7 separate regions of the Homo sapiens genome follow, and all the other regions are linked to region 1. The links come from fine-mapping of genetic effects on gene expression. A gene starts in region 1. Each other region holds a variant in brackets. All regions are shown on one strand. Distances are between the middles of the regions.

Region 1 (4,069 bases):
CATATTTTAGCTTAAAAATGCGCTTTTCAAGAATCTGCTCTCAGTTTCCCCCAATCACAAAGAATTCTTTCTTTTCCTGGGTCCACACAGCAAATATCTCTGTTAGTCTTTTTCCACAGGCAGCCTGCCTGTGTCCTCCTCAAGACCAGGGAACTGTGTCCTTATTCCATTACTTAGCACAGTGCCTGGCACTTTGTCCATGCTTCATCAATCTCTTTTAAAAAAGAAATACATGAAAAAGATGTCCTTGAAACTAGCACAGCTCAGTATACATTTACTTTAATTAAGATATTAAGGTTCATCTTAGCACACATATTGTGAGTGACAACCATCTGAAATTCAGTCTCAACTTACCTGCCTCCTAAATGGCAGTTTAATTTCACTATAATCTTTATGATAATAACCTTTAAACTTGTTATTAGTATTACTGATAAAGTTAAAAGACTTTCATCTGGTAATTTTGTCTTAGGAAACATTCAATTATTAAATTCCACACTGATCATTAGAAAACCCTATTATTTCATAATGGGCTGGGCAATACCATGCAGGTATCCCTCGATTATTGAAACAGAAGCCATCTCTAAGTGTGTGGAAGTGAAATCTCATGCATCAAATAGTCTACTCACAAACTTGAGCTGTATTAGTAGAGACAGATGGGTGTAAAGTGAAAAGTCCTCTCATGGTCTGAAATGATAGTGTTTTATGGGGATGAATGGTGTTTGTGGCTGATTAGTCCTCACTCTTCCCAAAACCTGGCCAAACTCAAGGTGGACAGATTAAGCCAGAAAATTTTAGGGGTGTGTGTATGTGTGTGTGTGTGTGTGTGTGTGTGTGTGTGTGTGTGTAGTAGACATGGTTTACCTCATGGCAAGAAGGCTTTTCTCATAGAGCCACTCACAGATAAAACACCTTTGCCAGACGGCTGCGGTGGTTCACGCTTGTAATCCCAGCACTTTGGGAGGCCAAAGTGGGTGGATCACGAGGTCAAGAGTTCAAGACTAGCCTGACCAAGATGGTGAAACCCCGTCTCTACTAAAAATACAAAAATTAGCCGGATGTGGTGGCAGGCGCCTGTAGTCCCAGCTACTCTGGAGGCTGAGGCAGGAGAATTGCTTGAACCCCGGGGGATGGAGGTTGCAGTGAGCCGAGATCACACCACTCCACTCCAGCCTGAGCTACAGAGTGAGACTCTGTCTCAAAAAACAAAAACAAAAAAAACACCTTTGCAGGAATTGACAACAGAGGCTGGTCTAGGGCATGGGGAAAACTCAAAAAGAGAACGGGAAAGTGTTTCTTCTGGTCCTAAGGACCCCTTCCAAGTGGGAAAATATTTCACTCTAACTAGACAGTGCCTTCCTGCCCTCTGTGAATTTTTGCCAAAAAACAGACCAAGAGCCTCTGTGGGCAGTTCAGGAGAGCCTTTCAGAGTGCAAAGGAAGCTTGGGCAACAAGTCCTCCCAGGGGAAACACCCTGGATCTCAGAAAGGAGAGGGGCCTGAACACCTTCTCCTGATGCTTCCCGCCTCCTCTGATCCCAGCCCACACAGGGCCCCAACCCATGCAGCTTCGGGCACGTACCTTGGCACACTATGGGGATTTAACACATGTTTCATGATGTTCTGGCTGATGGACTGGGAAAGGAAGCACCCGAAGCCGGGGTCCCCAGGAGCTCTCCCTCCCCTCAACAGGAGCTCTGACTCACAACCTGTTTGGCACTGCTGAGTCCTCTCCGGTTTCCTGAATCTCCCTCTCTCTAATGCAAAAAGCCTCCATGGCAGATGTTTTAGAACAATGATCACGTCAATGACGCTGTAACCCACTACTTTCTTTTTGCATCATAGAATTTTTTAAGTGTTTTTGCAGACTTACTCTTTAAGGTTAATTACATGTTTTGGATTGAGCCTTTGGGAAGACTTTACAGTGGTCCTATCGGATAACTGCGGGCCCCAAGGCTGGAGATCTGTTAATAGGGTGGGCAGAAAGGGACTGGGAGCGAGACTGGGTTCAGAATCTCAAGTAATTTGGAGTGTGCCTAGGGATTGGGATGATTTGGCTGGGCATTAATTTGAAGGTGAATATGCGTCTAGAGATTGCGGGGATTTCTTTTTCTTGGAGGGCAACCGTGGGTGTGGAGGAATTTGGTGTGCAGAAACAGAAAGGTCTGGTTCGGGCTTCCTCTGGGAAGGCAAGGCCAAGTGGCCAAGGCTGAGAAGGGGCAGGGGCGACCGTGCTGGGGCGGGTCCGCACCAGCTCCTGGGAGCAGAGAGCAGAGCCGGGCAAAGAGATGGGGTTGTCCAGGCTAGGGTGAGGACGCGGCCGGTGACAGCGCGGGTGGGGATCCCCCGGGGCCGGGGCGGGGCGGCTGCCGCGAGCCGGGCTGGGGGCGGGGCGGGGCGGGGAGGGACGGGGAGGGGCGGGGCGGGGCTCCGAGGCCGTCTCGCAGGCTGCGGCGGCCGCGGGAGAGGCGTACTCGGCGGCGGCGGAGCGGGCGGCAGAGCAGGGCGGCGGCGACTCGGTGAGCGCGGCGCGGCTGGGGGCGCGGCAGGGGCGCGGGCGGGGGTCTGCGGGCGCGGGGCTCGGCCTGCACGGGGCACCGCGGGGCACCGCGAGGCGGGGCGGGCGCCTCCCTGCCATCCTTCTCCTCCCGGACGCCCCTGCAGCCTTTGGGAGGGAGGGAGAGCGGAGGACACCGTCCGGGAGCCCTTCTCTAGCGATCGCCGGACAGAGGTCCGGCTTTGTGCCCCGTTGCCCTCTTTCTGAGAGGGCTGCCTCCTGATTGTGTTCCTTTCCCAGACCACCCTCCCTCGTCCCTCACTCACTTACCCCCCACCCCAGGTATCATAAGCTCCATTCTTGCAGGGGACCCCTAACACTCCCCTTCCCACCACCCGAGGCCCCGGGGTCCTGGGTACTCTCTACAGCCCCAAAGGGAGGGATGGCCCCCTCCCCAGCCCCTGCACACCTGGACCCTTCTGTTGCCACCTGCCACAGACGTTCTTAGCCAGCCAGAAAGCTGCTGTGCCTAGGACCCAGCACACCTTGCCGTCACCCTCTCTCCTCCCCCAGAACCCAGAACCCCAGTTTGGCAAAAGGCACTTTTCCAATACTGAGCTTTGGGAACAATTTGACCCACTTCCCAAAATGCTGGTCCCAGGCCAGCCATGCTTTTTGGTGGAGACACCTGTCTTGTCTGCCAGGAGACATTCTCTGTCAAAATGGGCCAGCCCGTCCCTGGGTCCTCCTCCAAGCTGCTCCTACTCGCTAGCCAGTGTCCCCAGAGACCAGGGCCAAGATCTTTGTCATTTAAGGCCTCCAAAGCTATTTCCCCACGCATCCCCAGAATTCCCCCAGCCACTGTTTTGGGGGTGCCAGGTCCAGAACTGATGGAGCAATCTTTCTGTGTCCAGGGCCTGATGTCCTCTCCCACACCCTTGTTTACCCGCCTGCTCCCCAGGGAACCCAAGACAGGGTCATGGGGCTGGAGTTTAGGGCCCTGATCTCCCCTGAAGCTCTGTGACCCTCCTTTTCTCCCTGTTAGAAACTTTCCTCTCTGTCACCAGTCACTATCTCCTCTGGATGGGACCTGGGCCATCTGCACAGTGTCGAGTCCCCAGGGCACAGAATGCTGATCTGGGACCCTGGAAGGCTGGGACTTGTGCTGGGGCAGCAGGAGGAGAGTGGCTGCTAGCCAGGTCTGGGCTTGGGTACCAGAGTTCTTTGGGTGGATCATTGTCGGCTTTCACTGATCTCTGGTTGGGGTTCGAGGGCTTGCTTTGCAGTGGAGACAGGAGGCAGAGCAGGGGCTGTTTTTCCTGCGTGCTTCTGACTGTCTTGTGTTGCTATGGTGACAGTTTTGCCTGTCTTCCTCCTTCTGACTCTTCTGGGAGCTGGTTTTTATTGGTCCGTTGTCCTGTCTTTCATGGCTCTAATTTCTCCTTTCTACTTGCTCTGAAATAAACAGTCATAAACATGGGCGCTGGGCCCAGGCTGGGGGCTGGCAGAACTTCACCTCCTGCTGGCCCTGGGTTCCTGTGAGGGGAGAGTGGGAAAGCGAGGTGGAAACAGACCT
Region 2 (4,069 bases), 160 kb before region 1:
GTTAGTGGTTTGGATAGATGAAACCCGCTACACATTTCCTTAAGCCAAAGCCTAATCCAGAACAAGGTCCTAACTCTCTTCAATTCTGTGAAGGCTGAGAGAGGTGAAGAAGCTGCCGGAGAAAAGTTTATAGCCAGCCGAGTTTGGTTCACTAGATTTAAGGAAAGAAGCCATCTTTATAACATAAATGTACAAGGCGGAGCAGCAAATGCTGATGGAGAAGGAGCAGCAAGTTTTCCAGAAGATTCAGCTGAGATCGTTGATGAGAGTGGCTACACTAAACAACATATTTTCAGTGGAAAAAAAAACCAGCCATCTCTTAGAAGAAGATGCTATCTAGGATGTATATAGCTAGAAAGGAGGAGTCAAATTCCTGGCTTCAAATCTTCAAAGGACAAGCTGTTTCTCTTATTTGGGGCTAACGCAGCTGGTAACTTTAAGTTGAAGCCAATATTCATTTATCATTTGGAAAATCCCAGAGCTCATAAGAATGATGCTAAATAAATTCCGCCTGTGCCCTATAAATGGAACAACAAAGCTCAGATGACAGCACGTCTGTTTACATCAGTTTACTGGACATTTTAAGCTCACTGTTGAGACCTACTACTCAGGAAAAAAAAGATTCTTTTTAAAATATTACTGCTCATTGACAATGCACCTCGTCACCCAAGAGCATCAATAGAGGTCTACAAGGAGATTAATGTTGTTTTCATGCCTGCTAACAGAAGATCCATTCTGCAGTCCATGGATCAAGGAGTAATTTCAACTTGCAAGTCATATTACATAAGAAACACATTTTATAAGGCTATAGCTGCCATACATAGGTATTCCTCTCATGGATCTGAGCAAAGTAAATTGAAAACCTTATGGAAAGGATTCACCATTCTAGATGCCATTAAGAACATTTGCAATACGTGGGAGGAGGTAAAAATATCAACATTAACAGGAGTTTGGAAGAAGTTGATTCCAACCCTCATGGATGACTTTGAGGTGATAAAGACTTCAGTGGAAGAAGTAATTGCAGATGGGGTAGAAATATCAAGAGAACTAAAATTAGAAGTAGAGTCTAAATATGCGAATTGATTGTTGCAATCTCATGATAAAGCTTTAACAGATGAGAAGTTGCTTCTTATGAATGTGCAAAGCAAATTTTCTCGAGCTGGAAGCTACTCTGGATGAAGGTATTGTTAATATTGTTGATATGTTCACAGGAGATATCAAAAGATATAGAATATTATGTAAACTTAATTGATAAAGCAACAACATTATTTGAGTGAATTGACTCCAATTTTGAAAGAAGTTCAACTGTGGGTAAAATGCTATCAAACAGCATGACATGCTCTAGAGAAATCTTTTGTGAAAGGAAGAGTCAATCCATTTGTCAAACTTCATTGTTGTCTTTTTAATAAATTGCCACAGCTGTCCCAATCTTTAGCAACAGCCACCCTGGTTAGTCAGCAGCCATGACCATTGAGGCAAGATCCTCCACCAGCAAAAAGATAAAAACTTGCTGAAGACTCAGATGATTGTTCGCATTTTTAGCATTAAAGTGTTTATTAATTAAGATACATGCATTGTTTTTATAGATAATATTATTTCACACCTCAAAGACTATAGTATAGTGTAAACATAACTTTTGCATGTACTGGGAAACCAAAAAAATTC[A/G]TGTGACTTCCTTTATTGCAAAATTTGCTTCGCTGTCATGTTCTGGAACCCAATCCCCAATATTTCTGAGGTATGCCTGTACATATTTGAAACTTTAACAATGGATTTGTAATTCTACTGCAGTTAGTCAGGACTATTTTCCTCCTTACTGCTAGTAGAATTGGAGGTATTTTCTATCTTTGCAAGTTAGAACAGGTAAACCAAGCTGGATGAATCAATATCATCACTCACTCCTTCCCAGAATCCTTAGGACCACAAACTTTTTCTCATATAAATCAAATATTTCATAATATAGATTTTTGTATTGACAAAGTCAGAAAACAGTTTTGGCCTTTATATGAAAAAAATGCACCTTGTTAGTATCACCTGTGAATGTTTTTGCATTAGAGGAGGAGAGCCTTGGATACTCCACTGCAGCAGCAGCTACAACAAAAAGAACACCAAATACATCAATACTTTCAGGCATGTCTGGCATCTTATACCTAACAGACTAGCACACAGCACATGCTCCATCTATTATTCTAGAAAGAAGAAAGGAAGAAAGGAGAGATAGAAGAAGGAAGGAAGGATGGAAGGAAGAAGAGAGGAAAGGAAGAAGAGAGGAAAGGAAGAAAGAAAAAAGGAAAGAAGGAAAGGAGGAAGATATTAAGAAAAAGGCTGCATTTTGAGATAAAATAGTGCATAAGTGAAATGAAAAGATACTTATTAAAGCAAATAACAACAACCAAAACTACCTAGAAATAAGTGCACTACTAAAAGAGATAAACACATCAAAATAACTGAAACCTTAAGGTTTGTAAAAATTAGACTCGGATTTCAAGATTGCCTAAAGGATGAAAAATGCCACAGAGTCTGATTCCCTCAGGATTCCTTTGTAAAAATGCATGGGGTTTAATCTCAGCCTTTATATAATTTTATTTCATATAAATGTATATTTTAGTTATATTTAATTCCATTTGGGGGATAAATGTCAAAATGTCAGGTCATTCTATAGTTAATAATGTGGCAAACTAGTGTTATTTTCTCTGGTGACTCTCTATGAAACACATACACTAAAACACAAGCATGCATACAGATACACACCACCACCATCACCAAGTTATTTATGAAGAACAGAATCGTGGATAAAAGCTTAAAAGTTTGAAAAGTCAGACCGATGCTTCCTGGACCTTCACTTGCTAGTCTCTCTAAGTTCTCATTTGCAAAATTGGGAACATGATAAAACCAGCCAAATTGTCCCATACAGCTGATATTTAAGGTCTTTTTGAATCAACATTGTAATTGACCCTCCTAGTCTTAAAGCTTGAAATTTATATTTGTCTTATCTGAGTCCCTTTTTCAGGAAACTGACCCTCTGGCCTCCCAGATAGTATAAAGGAACTGAAACTCACCAGATCACCACATCCAGACAATGAAATGCCAAACCCCTCATTTGTCATGATTGCTTCCTTACCTCTCACTAATTCCTGTTTTCCTGCATAGCTACATTCCTTCCCCACTATATAAACTCCAAATTTTAGTTAGTTGAGGAGACAGATTTAAGGCTTTTCTCTGGTCTTCTCAGCTAATGTCTTCCAATTAAAGTTTTTCTTCCCTGGCGATACTCACTGTCTCCATGATTGGCTTCCTGTGTGGCAAGCAACAAGACCTAGACCAATCCCTTGGCATCAGTATAGTAATATTTATGTTACAAGAAAGTTATAAAGAAATGCTCATTTATTAATTCTACAAATAGACACAAGTTGCATCCTCTACACCAGGCGCCCTGCTAGGAGCTTAGGTGCAGACACAAGATCCCTATCTTTTAGGAATTTACCTTCCAGATGGGAAATACATAAAGAAAAAGGCAACAAATAAATGCTGTAATGCTCTGAACAAAATTCTAAAAGGTTTTGATAGAAAATAATTGGAAGGACTACTTTAGATAGTAGGGTCATGAAAATCCTCTTAGATGTCATTGAATCTGAAACCTTAGGTGTGAGGAGGCATCACTGAGGAAAGACAGATTCAGGCAGGGAGAATGGTGTACACCAAGGCCCTAGGAATAGTGAGTTCCAGACAAGGTCCAGGGTACTGAAGAGCAGGGGGCAAGGAGAAGAAGCACGAGGTGAGTTATAGAAAGGAGTCAAAGTCAGACCATGCAGGCCTTTAGATCCTAGAAGAGTATGCATTTTATTGTAAGGGCAAAACAAGGCTGTAAGAAGTATCAAGCCTGAGAATGACTTTATCTGACTTACATTTTTTAATAATGTAGCTTCTGTCTGGAGTATGAACAGCAGAGGAGCAAGAATAACAGTGGAAAGATGAGTTAGGAGGCAAATCATATCAGATTAGAAAGAGAAGGTAGGGCCATGAGCTAGGACAGTAGCACCGGAGGAGAGAGATGCTCATGTTTTTCATATAC
Region 3 (4,069 bases), 39 kb before region 1:
GGCTGAACAAGGTCAGAAGTAGCAGTGTTGAGGTATTAATTATATTTTTTTATTTTCTATATGAGTGATAATCTGGTATCTGGAGTTTCACTGACTGGAAAGAGGCTGCCCCACCCAGGGCTTGCTAATTCTTAGAGATAGCAGAAGACTCGCTGAGGAGAGCACCTTTCATCTGTATACCAACCAATCCAGAGCCCGTACTCACAACCACCTTCTCTATCTGGCTCTTACACTCCAGGAGGTGGTATTCTTCTGCCCTACTTATCCCAGAAACAGGTACTGGACAATTAGGGTCAGCTCCTATGCCCCAGAGCCCACTGAAATTATTCAAACTAGCCCATTCTAAATCTGCATGCCTTGCCTTTCCCACAGAAACCACAACAAAGGCTCTGAACTCTGCTTTCCTTGACTTTCTCTGCCTGAGACTCCCGCCCCCCGCCCTGGTTCTTCCCCATGTGGCCCAGGCCTCCTGTTTCTAGAGAATTGTGAGAAAACCCCTCATGACAGTCATTTATGTGCCTACATGCCTTATCGTTATCTGATTAAAACAAATCAAGAGTATAGTTTTCAATAGCTGGTCAGGAAAACAAATAAATATCAAGATGTTTAAGACACTGGCTGGTGTAAGGAACAGGTACCGGACAATTAGAGCTAGGTGTGAGGGTCAGTCTATGTTGATCCACTCTGCCATGGAGCACACTGATTGGCACTCAGAGCTCGAAGACTCTCTCCCTTTGCCCTTGATCTAAACCAGCTTTCTGAAAATTGTCTCATCTGTCACCTAGAAGTCAGCATTTACTCTTTGAACTTGCTGGACTTTCCTAGGAATATGGAATATTTTGTCCTATGGGAATAAAATATTGAGACCTTAAGTAGCATTTGCAGGTGACCTGGAAAACCCTGAATCCACATCCCTAGAGCACAATCAATGCCAGCTCAAGTGATACGGTTTGGTTCTGTGTCCCCACCCAAATCCCATGTTGAATTGAAATCCCCAGTGTTGGGGGAGGGACCTAATGGGAGGTGATTGGATCATGGAAGTGATTTCTAATGATTTAGAACCATCTCCCTAGTGCTATCTCCTAATAGAGTTCTCACAAGATCTGATGGTTTAAAAGTGTGTGGCACTTTCTTCCCCTTCACCTTCCCTCCATGACTGTAAGTTTCCTGAGGCCTCCCAGCTATGCTTCCTGTACAACTTGCAGAAATATGAGTCAATTAAATCTCTTTTCTTCATAAATTACGCAGTCTCAGGTAGTTCTTGCAGCAGTGTGAGAAAAAACCAATACACTAAGGTGGCTGTTATTATTAATCTGGTCTCATTGCAAGGCAAAGGAGTCATAATTAGGATTTGCTTTTCTTTCTCTGGTGAAAAGAAGAGGTAACTGACTGACACACAAAGAAAGAAGTCAACAAAGCATCTTCCCAGTAGCTGTTTTCCTAGTCACGCATCCAATGTGTGATCTAAATGCTCAAGAAGGCACGCTCCTTTCTTTCCTTTCAGAACAACCACATTTAAACTTTGATCCTCTGGGACCTGTAGAACTTTCCCCTCACTGGTCCTCAGTTTCTCCGTCTATACAGAGAGATTGATAAATGAGTTGATCTCTAAGGTCTTATCCAATTTGCAGAGCCCGTGATGACCAACTGAAGCATTTAGAGACAGGCTTAGCCTTGAGTATAGTGAGACAGAAGTCCCAGTTAGATCGGAAAGCTCTAACTTTATTACAGATGCCAATTCCTTTAATACTGCAGGACTGCCGTGCATGAGTACATGAATGCATACACACATACACACACAAGAAAGAAAAAAGACTGGTTTACTTATTGATTTTGGTTTATCCACATTAAAAGCCAATACTTTATACTCCAGACAACTCTTTCTGGGTTGTAGGCCGTCTGGATAGCTCCCCAGATGCTGATCAGACCCACCAATTATCAGGAAGACAGGCCCCCACCCCTAAATAATGGAGGAAGCATGTGAGTATTCCATAGAGAACAAAGATTTGGGGCCCAGGATATTCTAACCAGAGCAGGTGCAAAATGCATTTCAGAAGGAGAAGCTAAGTGAAGAAAAGCTCCTTTCATTCCTTCAACTTAGGAAACTTTTCTTGGGGCATTGATTTTAGACATCCACAACTAAACAAAGTCACCATTAATTTTTACTTCAAAGGCCTTTTCTATGAGCTCTAGTGGGACAAGTGGATTAGGAAGGCATTTGTGGTTGTGAATTTGCTGTTATTTCTTTTAATGTGGTGCATCTGACGTGCTAAATGCACTAAGTACCTAATAAACTGTAAACTGAATCGTGAACAATTTCATTATCTTGTTCAGGGACACAGATATCCATTAGTTAATTCACCTATTTGCAAAATAAACAAAGGACGTTTTACAAATGAGAGAAGCATATTGTTTTTAAATTGTATTTATTAATTCATACTCCAGACATCAGGCAAGATGATAGGCTGAGAATTAGCTCCATCTCGCTTCCACACTTCTCCCAATAAGAGAAAAAAAAGA[C/G]AAGTGAACTCAAATTTTTACAGCTGTGAGTGAAAGTTTAAGCCAAGAAAAATTCCTGTGAGTACTTATATCGAATACATGGTTCAGGAGCTGAGGTTTAAATATCTGTGGGAGAAATGAAAAAAATATGGCCACGTATTCCGAGGCAGTCTGAAGTGGCCTCACTGCACAAAGCCCAGCATAACAGAAGCTACGCTACCTGTGTACTGAGGCTAGAAATGTTCCACCTGTTGGACAAGGAGCAGGATGGCTTAACCAAGGAGGAGACAGAGGCAGAGATTAAACCTCTAAAACTGTAAAGAACACTACCATGTAGCTCTTATGAATACTTTTCAGAAGATGTAAAAATTCCTGATTGGGAAACTATTGTCAGAAAGGACCTGGTCCTGATTAATCTCATGGATCTCCAGATGACTGCTTCTACAAATCATTCTACACTCAGGATTCCCACAAAAACGAACTCCACTGGATATTAGAAACCACAGAAAAAAACTGCCATGTGGTATCATCAGCAATGGCAAAAGACATGGGAATTTGTACCCAAAGAAGATACTTTAATTAGGAATATTTAAAGTGTTTCAAAAAGCAAATTAAGAAAGGAAAGGTACAATGTAAGAATATAATAGAATAAAAACATAATAGGCAAATCTAAAAATAAAAATAAAGGGGCTAAAACTGAGGGGCAGGGAATTCAGCATCTTGGCTTAACAATTGATTAACCAATACAAAAATCAAAAGAACCATCCAGAATGCAGGAGAGCTGTGCAAAATGGAAAATAGAATCCAAGAGATATGAGGCTTAAGACATAAATTCCAACACAATCAGATAGGTGTTCAAAGGGACTTGCCTTGTGTTTCCTAACTTGAATGAGCTGTGACCAGCTTTGGTTTCAAGACTGTAATAGTCTTATCAAAAGTGCCGGTCAGTTTCCCTCTTTTCCTAGTCTCTGTAATATTTTCTATTATTTAATAGTTATTGTTCCTTGGTAGGAGGTAAAATAGGCCTGGGGAATGTGTGGAGTGGGGTTGTTGGTGACTGAACATTTTAACTATAAAGTTATTCGATGGTAACATTTGAGGATTTTTATTTCTTCTTGAGTCAATTTTCATGTTTATAATTTGCTTTAAAATGTATACAGTTCAGTCATTGGCATTAAACTGACTAACTCATTTTTGAATGTACATTTGATAAAATCAAATACTCATTTATATTTTTAAAAAATCTTAGTAATCTAGAATCTGAAATAGATAACCTTAACCTGTTAAAGGTATTCTACTAAAATATGTCAGTAAGTGTCACATTCAATGTAAAAAACAGAACAATTTCCCAAGAGAGTGAAAATGAGATCGAGATGCCTACTGTCACTATTTATTTAATATTGTATTGGAGGTCCTAGGCAATACATTTAGACAAAAAAAATAAATAAATAACTGATAAAAGTTTTAATAAAAATAAATTTTTTATTATTTGCAATTTACATGATTTTTGTAGATGAAAAAACTCAGGCTCTACCAATAAGCTATAGAAGTAGTAAATGATTTTAGTGAG
Region 4 (4,069 bases), 190 kb after region 1:
ATGTGCACAAAATGCTTATAGACACATTGCTTGTGAAAGCGAAAATGCAAAGTACTCCTTGCCTGGGATTGAGAGGACCCTGAAAACAGGCAGAGGAAGGAATCCCTAGTAAAGTTACCCGTGACATCGTGCTTCTATTTCAAGCGTAAAATTATTTTCTACAGCCTTCATTGACAGATTTTCCTGATGGTGACCATGATCGTGATTCTTAGAATTTATAAAACACACAGGTGACCAGTCTCTAATTTGAGCTTCACTACAATCCTACAGGAGAGAAGCAGGATTGGAGCAGTTTTTCCCTAATTATAGAGGGAGAAAGCATGGCACAGATAGGAAAAGCCCAAGAATTTATGGCCAGCAAGTGAGAAAGCCTGAACACCAACTGTTTCTTCTTAATTCAAGGCTATGCATGGCTTTTCTCCTCAATCTTGTGCCTCTCACCTGAAGCTTAAAATTTCAGGTATATTACATTCATGTCTATTACATCTATATAACCATATATTTTTATTTGGGATTAAAATGTTTTTACTATATATTAACACTTTCTCATCTTCTTAGAAGAGACTTTTACTTCACATAAACTAATCTTTTCCTGATGCCTCTTGTTTACCCTGTGGATATATATTATCATGGTGTGAGGAACCTTAGATCTAGACTTGCTCTGGACTTTCTTTTGATTTTGTCTTTAAAGTCAGGCTATCCATTCTCCAGCGGGAATGGGGTCATCTCCACACTGCATTGTCCTACATTGCTTTGAACTGAACTTGTAAATAGTTGAACTTGTAAATAATTGCATGCTGATTAAAAATTATTAAGGTCATCACCTCACATTTTGTACACTCACGTTTTTAGACTCTTTAGAGTGTGAAGACATGTTCTTGCAGCATTAAGTACTTCAGCTAAGCCTTGGCTTTAACTCTTAACAGGTAAACAGGAGGTTTGAGCCCTTTTCCTCTGTGAGGATGTTCCATGAAGGAAAATGAATTCACACTCTTTCATGCCCCCATCTCTCAGACTTATCCCCCTCCTGACCATTCATACAGGATTAGGCTCACAGTAAATGTCCCAGTGAGCTGCAGAGGAGCATGGACAAGCATGGGAGTTGGCTGAATTACCTGCAGCCTTGTGTAAGTCTCTTCACTGCTTTTAGTGTCAGTTTCCCCCTCCATCATATGGTGATGTTATCACATACTTTCAACATTGGGAGGATGGTGTGTGATTTAGGTAAGACACAAAGCTGAGTGCCTAGCAGAGAGCTGGCACTCCCTACGTGATGGTTTTCATTTTCTCTCTCCCTCCTTCCACCCCTTACAAACACACACTTGTGTTCACATCCCACACCATTTCCCCATTTCCCTTGTATACACACACCATACACACTATTCCCATGGCTTTTGTATCTTGATGACATTGTCTTCAAAAGCAATATCACAAAACTCTGCCCTCTCTTGTCACAGCAAACAGAATGAGGTCAGATGTGGTGGTTCCTCAAGGCTGGCTCAGAGCATCAGTGAGGACAATCTCTCTGGATCCAACCAATCTTATGCAGCTGAAA[T/C]GAAGGCAGCCAACCACTGAGCACATGCGGTTTGTGGTCCAGCCAGAGCAGTGCTTTCATTTACAAAAAATAAATTGAATTAATGAGTGTGTCACTTGGTAATCTTAGATTCTTCAACAAATGAGTCAATAAGAATAATAAAATATTTCACAGTGAAATTGAAATAATAACCATTTCTGTCAATTTATTTTTTTATTTTATTTTGTTTTTTTGAGATGGAGTCTCGCTTTGTCACCCAGGCTGGAGTGCAGTGGTGCGATCTCGGTTCACTGCAACCTCCGCCTTCTGAGTTCAAGCGATTCTCTTGCCTCAGCCTCCCAAGTAGCTGGGATTACAGGCATGCACCACCATGCCCAGCTAATTTTGTATTTTTTTAGAGATGGGGTTTCACCATGTTGGCCAGGGTGGTCTCAAACTCCTGACCTCAGGTGATCCACCCACATCAGCCTCCTAAAGTGCTGGTATTACAGGTGTGAGCCACCGTGCTTGGCCTGTCGATTTATTTTTATCACATGGTTTAATAGGTTATTTTGAGCCTAGTAAAGGAGATAGAAATAAGACACTCAAAGAAATTCCAGAGTCTTTGTCTCTAATTAATTTTTTGGCTATGAATTCTACTGCAGAATGCTTTGTGGCCTTGTCTTTTTATAAATGAACTGAGGAAGCAATGGCTGAATAACTTGAAATTCATACTACTGGCCCCATTGAAGGATTGATCTGCCTTTACTTTATGCAATGAAAGAGTCTGGAGTAAGATTCTGTGTTAGTAAGGATTCTCCAGAGAAACACAACTAACAGGGTATCTATTTATCTATCTATTCACACACACACACACACACACACACACACATATCTGCACACACATATATCTATATACGTATATGGAGATTTATTATAAGAATTGGCTCATACAGTTATGGAGAACAAGAAGTCCCACAATCTGCTGTCTCCAAGCCGGAGAAACAGGAAAGCTGGTGGTGTAATTCAGTTTGAGTCTGCAGACCTGAGAATCAGGGGCTGATGCTGTAAGTCCCAGTCTGAGTCCATAAGCACTAGAACCAGGGGCATTGATGCCTGAAGGCAGGAGAAGATGGGTGTCTCAGCTCAAGCACAGACCAAATTTGCCCCTCCTCTGCTTTTTTTCTTCTATTCATGCCCTCAATTAATTGGGTGAGGGAAAGTTTCTTTTCTCAGTCTAGTGATTCCAATGCTAATCTTTTCTGGAAACCCTCAAAGACACACCCAGCTTCTTGGCCATTCCTAGCCCAGTCAGGTTAACACACAAAATCAGCTCTCACAGATTCCATTGCCGATGTGAGACATAGTCGAATAAAGGAAAGAGTACCTGGCAGTGTCAGGAACAGGCAGATTTGGGACATGTCCCCTGTTCTATTACTGGCTGTGTGACATTGGTCAGAATCCTAATCTGAGATTCCATAGAATGTAGCTAGCAACTTCTACCTTGTGGATTCACATGAGTATATAAAAAACAATCAAAATAAAGCACCTAGTACAATATCCTACCATCCAATAGGCACTCAAAGTATTAGTTATGTTATTATCATTACAATTATGGTTTTTTCATCATTATCATTTTCATGTGAAAATTTTCCCTAGAGTCCAGGTCCTGGCTCTGAAGATGTCTCTTCTAGCATCCTCCTGCTCTGATCCTCTGGACTTCCCCAACACCTATAGGCCAGGTGACGCTCACGTCACCTTGCTGGTTTTACGTCATTTCTGTGTTGTTTCCCACTGCACAGCATGTTAGTGCCATCTCCTTTACTATAAGCTGTACCACTTAAGAAAAGGGAAACTTCATCTTCTGTTTCTCCTACAGTTCCTGGGAGTATGTCAGCACCTGTGCCCAGCCAAGATTTCAAGTACACTGTCACGGGCAGAGCTTGCCCTTGAAACCAGGAGACCACGCTCGGAGCGCAGTGTTCCTTCTTCTGCGTCACACTACATTTAGGGAAGAACATCACCAACAGGGATGTCTAGAAAACTCCAGGACTTGGGGATGTTAAACATGGGCCTTAGGGATCCAGGAACAAGAGCTTCTTTAGAAATCAGCCTTAGCTACAGATAAATTTCCCTTCTTCCCCTAAACGCATTTCCACCCACACCCTATGCACATGAAACAATACACTGGGTCTTTGCACAGTAATGCCATAAGGTATATTATGCTGGAACACCTACATTAGATGGAAAGTCCAGTGGGGAGAGGACATGGTATAGGAAGGGAAGGTTCAGGAGAAGTAAGAGAGAAAAGAATAAGAGGCCCAGATAAGCCAAGGGAAAATGATGGGCCGGTTTCATCCCAAGCCCTTGGAATGGTTCCAGCCCACCAAACAACTCATCATAGGGAACACAGAGAGGCCCAGCCATGCTCAACTGTACCTTGTCTCTGATACTCACCCAGAGAACCTCCTACACATCTTTCCTCCTACTGTTTCTTTTTCTCAGTCTCACTGTCTCTCCCACACCTTGACTGTTATCTGATTCCTCACATAAGCC
Region 5 (4,069 bases), 110 kb after region 1:
ACTTCTGAGTGTGTTGAGCTTTCCAGCATCATTCAATCAAGCAAAACTCTGTGCTAGGCCCTGAGTCCCATCTGATTTGTTAGAATTTGTACCTCCTGGAGGCACTGTGATGATGTCAGAGGAGCACAGGCTTTCCAGATAGCAAAATATAGGTTTGAATCAGAAATCACAAATCTCAATTCAGTAACCTTGTGATCTGGAATAGATCATTTAACCTCTCTGAATCTTAGTTTTCTTTTCTATAAAATGAAGGCAATGACCTCACCTTTACAAAGTTATTGTAACACGAAACTTAACATGGAGCGCCCATGACCTGGCCAAAGTTTTATTACATGTTAATTCTCTTTTCCTTCTTTTGCATAAATGATTTCTACACCCGGCTATTGGGAGGCTGCAGATTGCACCATTTTTGTGGGTTTGCTTACCAGCATTTGTGCCCCCTTGTGGTGGCAATGAGGTTAATTAAGCATTGCCAGGAAAGTGGAGAACCATAAACATTCCAGTTCTGGGCAATGTTGCTATGCAAATCTCTATTCTGAAATTTGTGAGTTAGCAGGGGCAGCCTCAGTGGTCAGGATTCTGCACTCAATCCTGTGAAATCCACCTCCCTAGAAAATGAGACCGCTCATATCTCCTCTGTGTAATTATTTGATTATGTAAAATATCTACTTGGTTTAATAACCATAATACAAAATTCCTTTGGAAGGAAGAATCAAATATTAAATCTGAGATGACTGTGAGCATTGAAGTGTGGATTTTTGTCTAAAGAAATAAGCCCAAATATCAATTGTGTTTCCGAAGGTAAAGATGGGCTGAAGCTTACACAGAGCACTGTTTGCCGCTAACCTCTACCATTCTCTCTCCATCCAGGTTCACTACAAAGCACTTGAACGATGAATCAACTTCCAAACAGATTCGAGCAATGCTTCAGTAGAGCTCTGCTCAAAGAAGAGGATCTATGTGCTGACCTCAGAAGATGTATATGTTTACATAATTTAATACAGATTGATGTTAATACTTGTGTATTTACATAACCGTTTCCTTCTTGTCACTGAAATATATGGACCTTAATTTGTATCCTGACTGACTCAACCCAGCAGAGCATAAATTGACTTGAGAGCCTTACCTTTGATGTCTGAAATGAAACCCCCTTCTCCAAAGGCAAAATTCGGAGACTTTGATCTTTGCTACTGGAGTCCTTTAACAACATCTATAACGATAAAAAATTCCTAATTGTTTGTGGTAGTATTTTAATTCTAGATGTGTTATCTCTCTGGGAAGTATAGTTTATAGAAACACAAAATATTTGATTTCCTGTGTCGGCTCAGCTACAAGAAACACAACTGTTATCTTGACAGAGGAAGAGAGGAATCCAAGAAAAATGCATGTGGAGAATTAAACCCAAGTGTTTCGAATTCAGCACACCCCCTCTCTGTCCTCAGACTGCAGTCCACACGTGCAACTTTTCTGTTTGCACGTGTTTTATTAATCAGCATACTCCTTTTCTGTTTGGATTTATATCCCTCTAATGTTCTCCTTTAATTTCACATGAAAAAAAAATCTCCTGTATTTTTTTCAGTTAGTGGGAGAGCAGCAGAAATAGATAGATGTGCTGTTGCCACTGGACTGATGAAGGTGGCTGTCTTGGAACTGGGAGACAGGTCCTCAGAGGTGCACTCAGGCAACAGGACAGCCATCTCTCTGCTTCAGCCCTCTGCCTACAGGGATTAGGGAAATGGAGCTCTGGCTTTGAAGTTATTTGTGAGTTTAGCAACCTTCCAGTTACCTGCAGAGTTCTGGGTGCACAGCCACCCCTCATAAGAGCCCTGTTCTCTGAAGACCATTCATATGAGAACAAAGGTCTAGGATACTGCATTAGTTACCAGAAAACTAGGGGAATTTAGAGGGAAAAAAAATCCATGTTTTCTATTTCCCAGGTTTTTAAAAAGTAGCTCTTCCCCAACCCCGTTGCTAGCTTGTTGCAATATAAAAGCCCTGGTGCACCTGAATTTACTCCTGGCCTTACTAATGATTCATAATGTGATCTTGAGAAATGTGTTTAAGCTTTCTGAGTCTTAACCTC[C/T]TTGTCTCTAAAATGGGCAATTAAAACAATCTTCAAGAGCCCTGTAAGGTTAATGCCGATAAAATGACTGACTCCGCCCTTCTTCCTTAGTACGTAGTATCCAGCAAGCATTTGCCCCACCTTGTCTTGTTGATGAACAATATTATGAAGCCTGCAGTCATTCTCTCTGTACATCAGAGCTTAGTTCGAATGGAATCATGAAAATCTCTGATTCTGACCTCCTAAGGAAAAATGAAACCCAGAGGATGTGGTCATACAGGATGGCTCCCATGTGGGCCTAGAACCCAGGATGCTTCACTCTTGACTCCATGCTCTTCCTTTTATACCATGTGGCTGTGAATACATACTATGGGATGGGATTCAACCCTTCTAAGTAAATCCTCAGTCTGGTCTATATTGTTACTTGCCTGTTTCCACTAGAAGGAGTCACCCAGGCATTTAGTGAATGATAATCCTAGAAGTTGAGTCTGAGTACATCAGAGTTTGGCATTATTTGCAACATCCCAGGAATGAGCTATAAGACTCCATTGCTTTCTGGACTTTAGTGACCAGCTGATCTTCCCTTGGATCCTCCAATAAAGGGGAAAAAATACTTGTCTTATGTTGTTTTAGCAAGGGAGTTCAGCCAAGTGACAGGAAAGATTCCCTGGTCTGCATCTAAACATTAGTCAACAGAAGGAAAAGGCTCTTTTCCTTGGAGATTTTCAAGTTGAAAAAGTACAGCTGCTTGGATGGAGTTTCTCTCATCAGAATAGAAATATGCTAGGTGGTCTTCAAGACCTTTTTGAACCTACAGATTCTAAACCTTAGAGGAAGCCAGAATATGTGATCATACCAGGTGAGGAAAGTTAGGAGATATTCATCTTAAGAGATATCCTATTTGGCAGTCACATGTTACACTTGAGCAACAATTGTCTAGGCTAGAAATATAGAACCACACAATATTTATCATCATTGGGTCAATTTCTCCCCCTCTATCAAGTGAGGAGATTAAGGCTTAAAGAAAGGAAAGGACTTGCCAGCCACCACAGGGCTCATGAGGGGCTTGAACCCATGTCGTGTGTCTCTACCACAGCTGACTCTCAGCTGGCTAATGGAGAAAATGTGAGGAATTACCTGTCAAATTAGATTGAGCTCAGAGTAAATAGATGAGCACATTTATAACTCTAAATTAGACTTTCTATCAAATGGGACCAAACATATGGAAGGGGCTGCTGTCCTGCCTCAATTTAGCCAAGACTTGTCTTGTCTCAAAGCCAAGACTCAGCAGTACATGGATTCTGAGAAGTCCAGGGTCTGAATTGTTGTCTCTGATTACTGGAAGGACAGGTTAACTGAATGTCTGTGATCACTAACAGGTGATGGGCTTTGTGCCCACTCCAGAGATATTGTGGGAGACAAATTCTTTTAACAGCCTGTCCTCCCGGCATCAGGAGTCATTGAACAATCATGGATTGTTGTGTTTGGGATTTTTTTTTTTTTGGCTTTGTTTTTGGTTTTTGTGTGTGTGTGTGTGTGCTGCATGCACATGCGTCCAAGACTTACGGGTGGTTTAGGGGAAAGTGCTAGCAACAGTGTCAATGTCATTGTTAACTATATTTCATATTTGAGGTCTCATTGTTTTCAAATAAACAGTGTTTTCCATGACTGAGATATTTATTTTTGGGAAAGCAACGAGGTAAAAATTATGTTTCTCAGATGCACTGCTACTTTGGCGTTATTACTGTGTTCTCAGAAACTCGTTGTGCACCACTAGGAATTAGTAGTAGAAAAAAAAAAACAATAACAAAAAAAAAAAACAACTGGAAATGGATGTCTTCACATTAGGGGTGGAGTATTAACAACCAGAAAGAAAGTTTGGATATTACCTTTTAACTACTAGTTAACATCATGCTTGATCAACATTTGCTCCTAGTTATCACCATTAAATTAAGACCTTAATGGTAAACTGAGGTTACTGATGCATCATCACATTTAAGTAAAAAT
Region 6 (4,069 bases), 45 kb after region 1:
GCTCGTCTCTCTCCCCTCCTCCCAGTCACTTATGGATCCTTTCCTTCTTATGTGCAAGGAATGTGGCCACATCTACTAGAATGTCTTCATTGGAGTTGCACCTGATGTAGGCTGACATTCCTCCTAGATGACTAAAGTTTGGTCAAGCGTTCAGCTGCCTGGATTGTGGTATATTAACACATCTCTCTTACGCAGGCCCAGTGTAAGGAATCATGGTCAGGAGTCATGAAAAAAATGCCAACACACTGAGATGGCCACACATCTTCACTCTTGCACTAGTTTTTGGTGTTATCTTCTGCTATCCTGTCTTGAAGCTCTTTTTCAGCTAGATACCTTGACTTTTCTGAAAAACTAAAACCAGAAGCATTTCACGAAGCTAAGCACAGGACAGAAGGTAAGACCAGGTGATATCTAAAGCTTGTTTTGCATTCCCAGGATTGTCTTATCCCAGACTTGTTTCTTATGCCAGACTCTTATTCTTTGGGGAACATGTTTATCTCATGCCTGCTTCCTTTCTTCCTCTTGTGGTTTCTTTCTCTAGAGTGGTTTCTGAGCTATAGCATAATTCAGAGGAAGGAGAACAGTTTTGCGACTTAGACACACATGACTTCAGATCTCAGCTGTGCTCTGTGTTGGCTCAGTGATTTTGCTTAAATCACCATTTTAAATCCCCAAGCTTCTGTTTCCCCACCTGTAAGGTAGGGATAGTACACTCCATGTTATAAGCTGGTGTTGAGGATTAAGTGAGATCACGCATGAGCATGGTTTCTTGTTACAGGAGACCTCAGCAAATACCAGCTCCTTTCCCTACCTACCCTTTTTTAGAGCTACTTGAATATAGCTTTGATCCCATATCTGGATTTCATTTGAGCCTTGTGCCTAAAATCTAGGACAGGCCTTGTCCACAAATACTGTTAAGCCCCAACGATTTAAAAAGGAGAGAAACTGTTAACAGCCTTTTTATTTCAGAGCTCTTCATCCATAGAAGCCTTTTCTCACCCGGACTTTAGCCAGATTGCCTCTCCAGCCTGGCCATTGGAAGGTTTTCTCTGCCATACCCAAAGTTAGAACTACTACTTTCCTAGCCCTTTGTCCCATGAGGTATTAGCTGAAAACTAATTCCCTCCCGGTGGCTTTTTCCCTTCAGACTAGCCTACATCCAAGACCAAGAGTAAGGGTCAATTGATTTGGGGCCGGTATCCTGGCCTGGCACTCAGCAAGACAGTCAGGGTCCAAGCACATGCTCATTCAGGGCTTTCTTCCTTGCCTGTTAGCTTTTCTAAGGCAGTCATTCACCCAGTCATCCATTCAGTCAGTAGATGTTCATGGAACATGAACCATGCAGTGGGTGGCTCGCACTATCTTGGTGCTAGGGATACAGGACAGAACAAAACCAAGTTCCTGTTCTCAAGGAGCTTGCATTCAAGTAGGATCAAGGGATCATCAACAAGTAGCAAACATGTATGTATTACATCTGGTAGTATTAGGTGCTATGAAAAAAATAAAGCAGAAAAAAATAAAGCTAAGTCAGAGAGCTAGAGAGTTGAGGGAAATGGACATTACTGTTTTATATACAGTGCCAGGGAACACCTCTGGATAAGGCATTATTTGGGCAGCATCTGGAGAAAGTGAGGGAGCAAGGCTAGAAGGAAGAGCCAGAACTAAATCTCTGATCGGGGAATGCACTTGGGCTTTACCCAGTCTCGAGTGACCAGTAGGATTGGAGCAGAAGGAATGAGGAGCCTGTGGAATGAAGCGAGGGCAGAAAGGACTTGGGTGTTTATGTTCTGGCTGGCTTTTCTGGAGATTCTTCTACCCTTCCTTTCTCTTCCCCAGAGCTCTTTCCCAATGCAGTGTTAGTCATTCATTCAAAAATCTTTACTGGGCCCTAGCTACTGGGACTCTGTAGATTAATGAGTCTGGGCCCCATTCTTAGGACTCCATGGCCTGGTGCTATCAAGGTTTCTTGGGGAAGTTGCATCGATAAAGTAGGTTGATGTAAACAGTTGTCTTAATTTGATCATCATAGAGTCAATTTGCTAGAGTAGGAATTTTCCACTGGAACCTCCCACAGGTCACTTTTACCTGTTCTCTTGGAATTTACTTACATGATAGACTATTGGTCTTTCTCGCCTTCAGGGTAGAAGGAGGATCATTCATTCAGCAGATATATGAGTGCCTCTTCTATGTGAGTGCTGTACCAGGCACTGGG[T/G]ATAAATGAGGACTAGGTCAGCCCCTGCAGTTGAGTTGCTTCTGGTTTTACCAGGAGACGCACTAATGGCTAGACAACACACTTTGATCAGTGTTGCATTAGGAATGGGTGCTTGGGGAGCTCAGAGGAGGAGTCCCTGACCCAGATTGAGGGGTGGAACCATGGAAGCTTCTTGGGAGCAGGTTGTCTGCACTCAGTCCTGGAGATGAGATGTAGCCAGGCAGGAACCAAGCAAGGAGGTTAAGATGCTTCAGGGAAGGGTGTTAGGAATTTCCAGGCCGGGAGATGGAGACACATAGGCAAGGACTGTGCCTCGGGGAATCCTGTGCACCTTCACCTCCCTCCTGAGACTGTGGAATGTGGAGAGGTGAGTCTGAGAGACCAAGGGACTCACTTAGAGAGGGAGGTGAGGGTATGAATCAGGGATTTTTCAGACCAAGCTAAGTGGTTTGAGTCTGTTTTGAGGACAGCTTAGAACTGCTCACAGTTTTTAAGCAAAAATGGATGAGTTATTAGGATTGGAGTTTTAAGAGGCAAAGAGCCTAATTTTATTTGAAACCCTGGTTCCTTAAAATGCTTATTTTATACCTCTTTCATATATTATTATAAGATTATAGTTTCCTTGGCTGTAAAATAAGTTCACACAGATCAACTGAATGAGATGGCTGTGGGTAGCAGATGCATACAATGTCCCTTCCCACCATTGATGCTGCAGTGAATGCTAAACTTGTCATTTCATGCCCAGTCTTAGTACACAGATAGCTGTGAAATGGTTAGAACATAAGTTTTGTTTCTCTTAGAACTGGCTGGCAAAAACTTAAACTATTCTAGTAGAAATGATGGGATTTAGGTCTTGTTACATTTTCTTCCCATCAGAAAATGAATGAGTAATATCCATTCCTTAACCCTCTCTCCACTGAATACTAAAGTCAGAGTGTTCTTTTAGAAATTACGCACTCATTAAACAGGTAATATCTGAGTATCTACCAATGGTCACACCCTGTGTTGGGCCGTGAACATCAGGACAAATCAGACAAGGTCAGCACCTCAAGGAGTTTCTAATCACGTGACAAAGACAAAAGCAGCCAACAGAGAAGCAGATGGCAGACAAGAACCCAGACATGAACAAAGTGATGTGGATGCAGAGGATGAAATGTGTTCTCTGCCCAGGAAAGTCAGGGAAGGCTCCAAAAGGAGCCATATGATTTGGGCATTGAAGGATGAGTAGGAGTTGCGAGCTGGAAGAGAGATGCTCAGGTACAGAACTGCACTCTATAAATAAGGGCCAACATTCATTTCTCTGTCATGGGTGAGGAGGAAATAGCCAGCCTGCTCATCATGCTCAGATAATGCCTCAACTCTGCTTTTCAAAAATCCATTAGTAGCCACCTCCTCATCCTCCCACTTTGTTCCCAACAGCGACTAAAAAGAAGCAAATTGACTAATTTGAATTGATCTTTTCTCTGACCCTATGGAGGTGTTAGTGAGCAGAATAGGGTAAGGGGACCAAGAAAAGAAGTAGAAAGGAGGAGGAATTCATCTTCATCATCCAGAAACGCTGATTTAACAGCATGGATTACACCATAGCTCTCTGGTGGTAAAATGCAGCTTTACAGAGACCTGAGTCTGCTTCTTCTAAGTGAAAACTGTATTTCCCCTGCTACCTTCCCTTTGGAACTCTTGGGGTGGAACTCTTGGGGTAGAATATGTATATGTGTGTGTGTATATATATATATATCTATATATGCACACACACACAGAGGGTTTTATGTACGTGTGTATGTACATATGCATGTACCTACGTGTGTGTATATATGGGTATATATGTGTGTATGTATATATGTGTACATTATGTAG
Region 7 (4,069 bases), 110 kb after region 1:
AGCAAGATGTCCAGGCTTTTTCTTGTGCTTAGGAAAAAACACTCAACCTCAAAAGCACAGCAGCAATGTTATGATGCTGATCCCCTCAGTCTCTAATGGAGCTGAGCAAATGAACAGTCACTTAGTTGCATGCAGTCCCTTCATTTACCCAGTGTGCTGTACAAATAGATGGTTTCTATTCTATGTGTGTCCTATTGTGAAGAGTTGGGAGATACTACATTACAAGACACTATGGTCAAATCCCAAATTACCTTTCACTTCCTCTCCCACCACTACCTGTTGCTCCACTCATGTCCCATGCCTTTCCTCATCATTTGGATATACGTGATATGTGTGAGTCCTTTCTCTTGCCGAGAGAGCCCTTCCTCTTCCTCTCTGATGGGTGGGTTCCTTTCAGACATGTTTCAAACATCGCCTCATCTAAGAACACATTTTCTGCATAGGACAAGCCTTCTTGCTTCTCTGGTCGCCAGAGCACTCACCGTTCTGTATTTTCTGACTCCCTCACAGACAATTTCTTGACAAGGACAGGGACCATAATCTATATACCTCATGTCTGCTCTATTGCCTCACACAGTACCTGGCACATAGTGGGTGGAACTCAACAGACACGCTGTAGGTGTTTTGATGGATGAATGAATGAATGAATGAAGATAATTGAAAACACATGATTTTGGTGCACAGTTGCTTTGCTGTTGATTGTGGCATAAAGCACACCTCCTCTTCATCCAGCACTTGCCTCTAGCACCAACCCAATAGTGTATTCCATGTACTCATTTAAAGCCTTTAAAGTGCAGAATAGCATCTCTTGGTAGTAACTTACTTACTCCAGTATAGCCGAGTCTGGGTGACACACTGTGTTCACTCATCTGCAGAGAACAGTGTCCTGATGCTCTGGCCCTATGCAAGAGAAAGTCTACATGCCCAGGAGGGCCATAGGTCTGAAGAATGCAAGATAATGTATCAATAAAAAATGTAACTTGGATTACTTATTTTAAGGTTCTGAGTTCGTAGTATAGTTAGTCATGTTTCTTCATAGACTCTTTATTATTTTTAATGTAATTATTTCTATGTACCAAGAAAATAAATATTTATGTGAAAAAAATTTTGACACTTAGAAAATCAAGACATAGTAAATTAAATATATCCTGTAATAACCTCACCATAGGCAGAGGATCACCGTTCATACAGCAGCATGCATGTGTACCTTCTTTTAGTATAGATGCTTGTGTGGACATGTGTGTGGATGTCCTTAACAAATTAGTACCCTGCTTTACGTGCTATTTTGAAACATATTTCATTTACATAAAAGTGTATCATGGGCATTTTTATACCAATAAATATTTTTACTGTATCCTTTGTGAGGCTTTAACATTTTCATACTATAGATTGAGTATAAATAACTCTGTAAATATTATTTGACTATGGGTTGAGTTCATTACCTGAGACTCATAAGATATTCTCATTACCATAGCCATTTGTTAACTTGTCACAGAGTCAACAATTAAAAATACACTGGGTAAAATTATGCCTTGTAGCCCTAATCTTTAAAAAGCTTGGCTTTATATGTTATTTACTGAGTCTTTCAGTTGAGGCTGTAAACAGTATATCATGTTAAGTCTTCACGCATAGTCTTGATGAAGTTTGCTTTTGTCCGTGGAGGTCAAAAGCACTACGTAAGGTTTGTTCATATGGATGTTTGC[G/A]TGTACCTCTAAGAAAGTTTCAGGCTTAATAAGCACGGTAAACCATTTGAGATGGGCCATTTTTTTTTTACGACATATAGGGTCTCCATTCAGATACTAGTCTGTTTCTAAGCCAGCAGTTATAGTCACTGGGCTCGTAAATCATTAGGGCATCAGCATCAACTGTGAAAACCCCAGGATCTCTTCGTGAGGGCCTGAGAGAGGCAGGCACTGTGTGTGTACTTACAAAGGGCATGCTTTGGAGTGCAGAATAGACATGCAGTGAGCTCTGGAAACCTAGGGGGAGGGAGAAACTCGTTTTGCCGAAGAGCAGAGACAGAGGGTGATGTTTGAGGTGGACCTTGAAGAAGATGTAGGATTATCCCAAAAGGACAGAGGGAAAGCAGAGTCCTCCAGGCAGGGGGAATCATCCAAGTGGCTACCAAGGCGGCACAAGCCATTTATTAAAGAAATGCTAATTGTGAATGCCAGGAAAGGAGGGTTTGGGGAGATGGTGTTTTCAATTGATTTCCTTAGAATCTTTTGAAATGACCCAATAAGTAATCACCTCTTAACCCCTGTCTCCATCTCAGATTTTATCCAGAATTCCAGACCCCATTTCCCATGGACACCTGAAATATGGCCATCCCCAAAACAGAGATTCCCCTCCCCCCACAAACCTGTTCCTTCTCCTGGGTTCCCGTCTCAGGTATTTCATCGTCCTCCAACCAGTGTCTAAGCCAGAGGCTAAAATTGTCCCTGAGAATGAGGAATGGCTTCTTCACCCCATATCTCATCAGTCACCAAATCCTATGGAGTTGACCTCAGATTAGTCCCTGTCTCTACTTGCTCCTCCATGCCCACTGCTGCTCCCACACCTCACACCCTCAGGGGCTCTCACTGCCCCTTCTCTCTCTGTTCTTGCTTCCTTCTGGTCCTTTTCCATATTAACCACATCACTAGATTATTTAACACCTATCAAGGATGTTTTCCACAGGTAAAGCCCCCAGCTCCTGAACATGCTGTCGAATTCACACTGCATCTGGCCCCAACTGCATCCTTGACAGCATCTTGTTATTCATACCTACAGCTTAAATCACCCTAAGTGGAACTCCGGATTCCCAAACAGCATTCCCTGCTCTTCCACCCCTTCCACATCTGCATTGTCACTGCTTCTTAGGCCTGGTTCATAAGAACACTTCCACACTGTGATAATCAACTATGGGAGAGGGACAGAATCTCTGCATCCCTGGGCCTGATGCCATCCCAGGTCTGGGGTGGCATATACCTGGCATGCTTGTAGCTTCTCCCAATCCGGTATGCATGACAGACACCTCTCGTTTGCCATGACATTCTTTTTTGATGCACCTGTAGTGATCCTCACATGATTCCCAACCCTGTTTTCTGGCAGCCTCCATCAGTCTATCAGGGTCTATCAGGCCGTAAGATAAAACTTTTGACATGCAAGAAGCACAATGACAGAAAATGTTTCTAAGGGCTGTTACAAAAGGGGCCCTAAGTATAACCAAATCCAATATATAACAGCATATGAATAGCTTTGCAGAAAGATTCTTGCTTTGCCAAAAAACACTCCAGGATATGCATAATGTAATGTGATCTATATAAATTCAGTTTCCATGCACTTCCCAAATTACGGGTCAACTATATTATACAGACACAAAAAGCTAAGACACTTGCCTAGGTTTGTGAAGATACTAAAGAAACAAGCATGAAGGAAACTCAGGCATTTAGCATCTGTGAAGTTCACATTCTGAACAGTGGCCCTTCATCAGTCCTCTCAAAGATGGCTGAGACATAGACTTGGACCTCCAGGAGCTCCTGGTCTAGTGAAGAAAGAAGTTAATATGGGCACTAAATTCTCCAAGTTTCTCTGATAAATGACAGAGTCGTATTGGGAGCACAGAAAGGTGTTGGTTGCTTCTACCTAATGAAGGTAGTGAGGTCAGAATAGGATTCCAGGAGGTAATGATCTTCAGCTGGGTCTAAAATAAGTGTTAAGGGTTTGCCAGTCAAACAGGTGAAGGACAGAAAACATTCAGGGCAGAAGAATGGCATAAAATTATTCAGATTTTATTCAGTAAATCTCAACTGAGACATAGACTTGGACATAGACATGTCCAACATAGACATAGACATGGAAACTGAGCACTGAGTGGATGGAAGGCCCTGCATTTGGCTCCATAGTACAAGGCAAGATCAAAGTCTCAAGTCTTTGTCCCTAAAGCCAGGCAAGTGAAATGTACAATTGCAAATAGTATGAAAATTGATAATGATTGCAGTCATACAGAATCCTCTAGAAGCCCAGAGGAACAGCTCACCAGCCTGAGGGGGTAGGAAAACCTGTTGGTCATTTCTGCGTTGGATTT

Direction of the effects. Positions count from the first base shown, and alleles are read on the strand shown. Sizes are in standard deviations (SD) of each study's normalised expression. Not every link is listed here.
As copies of C replace G in region 3, the expression in skeletal muscle of the gene that starts at base 2,461 in region 1 goes down (small effect, 0.23 SD a copy in GTEx).

The links. PIP is the estimated chance that this variant, and not a neighbour inherited with it, causes the effect.
Region 2: its variant is the best candidate, but not a certain one, in a credible set for the expression of CYRIA in whole blood (INTERVAL, PIP 0.85).
Region 3: its variant is the best candidate, but not a certain one, in a credible set for the expression of CYRIA in skeletal muscle (GTEx, PIP 0.77).
Region 4: its variant is the best candidate, but not a certain one, in a credible set for the expression of CYRIA in whole blood (INTERVAL, PIP 0.64).
Region 5: its variant is the best candidate, but not a certain one, in a credible set for the expression of CYRIA in whole blood (INTERVAL, PIP 0.58).
Region 6: its variant is the best candidate, but not a certain one, in a credible set for the expression of CYRIA in whole blood (TOPMed, PIP 0.57).
Region 7: its variant is the best candidate, but not a certain one, in a credible set for the expression of CYRIA in whole blood (INTERVAL, PIP 0.67).

What each region holds. Positions count from the first base shown.
Region 1 is chr2:16,664,226-16,668,294 of GRCh38, reverse strand. CYRIA (CYFIP related Rac1 interactor A) reads left to right here and starts at 2,461. Exons shown (of 12, transcript NM_030797.4): 1 at 2,461-2,515. RefSeq lists silencers at 2,255-2,424, 2,495-2,544.
Region 2 is chr2:16,822,400-16,826,468 of GRCh38, reverse strand. No RefSeq gene overlaps it. Among named protein-coding and RNA genes, the nearest start is that of LINC01866, 140 kb to the left of the region's middle. The variant A/G (reference allele first, on the strand shown) is at 1,666.
Region 3 is chr2:16,703,517-16,707,585 of GRCh38, reverse strand. No RefSeq gene overlaps it. Among named protein-coding and RNA genes, the nearest start is that of CYRIA, 40 kb to the right of the region's middle. The variant C/G (reference allele first, on the strand shown) is at 2,521.
Region 4 is chr2:16,471,242-16,475,310 of GRCh38, reverse strand. The region is part of intron 1 of LOC105373444 (a long non-coding RNA gene); the gene reads left to right. Among named protein-coding and RNA genes, the nearest start is that of CYRIA, 190 kb to the left of the region's middle. The variant T/C (reference allele first, on the strand shown) is at 1,556.
Region 5 is chr2:16,549,801-16,553,869 of GRCh38, reverse strand. It overlaps CYRIA (CYFIP related Rac1 interactor A), which reads left to right. Exons shown (of 12, transcript NM_030797.4): 12 at 871-4,069. The coding sequence ends at 934. Among named protein-coding and RNA genes, the nearest start is that of CYRIA, 110 kb to the left of the region's middle. The variant C/T (reference allele first, on the strand shown) is at 2,084.
Region 6 is chr2:16,619,264-16,623,332 of GRCh38, reverse strand. All of the region lies in intron 2 of CYRIA (CYFIP related Rac1 interactor A), which reads left to right. Among named protein-coding and RNA genes, the nearest start is that of CYRIA, 45 kb to the left of the region's middle. The variant T/G (reference allele first, on the strand shown) is at 2,213.
Region 7 is chr2:16,555,247-16,559,315 of GRCh38, reverse strand. All of the region lies in intron 10 of CYRIA (CYFIP related Rac1 interactor A), which reads left to right. Among named protein-coding and RNA genes, the nearest start is that of CYRIA, 110 kb to the left of the region's middle. The variant G/A (reference allele first, on the strand shown) is at 1,704.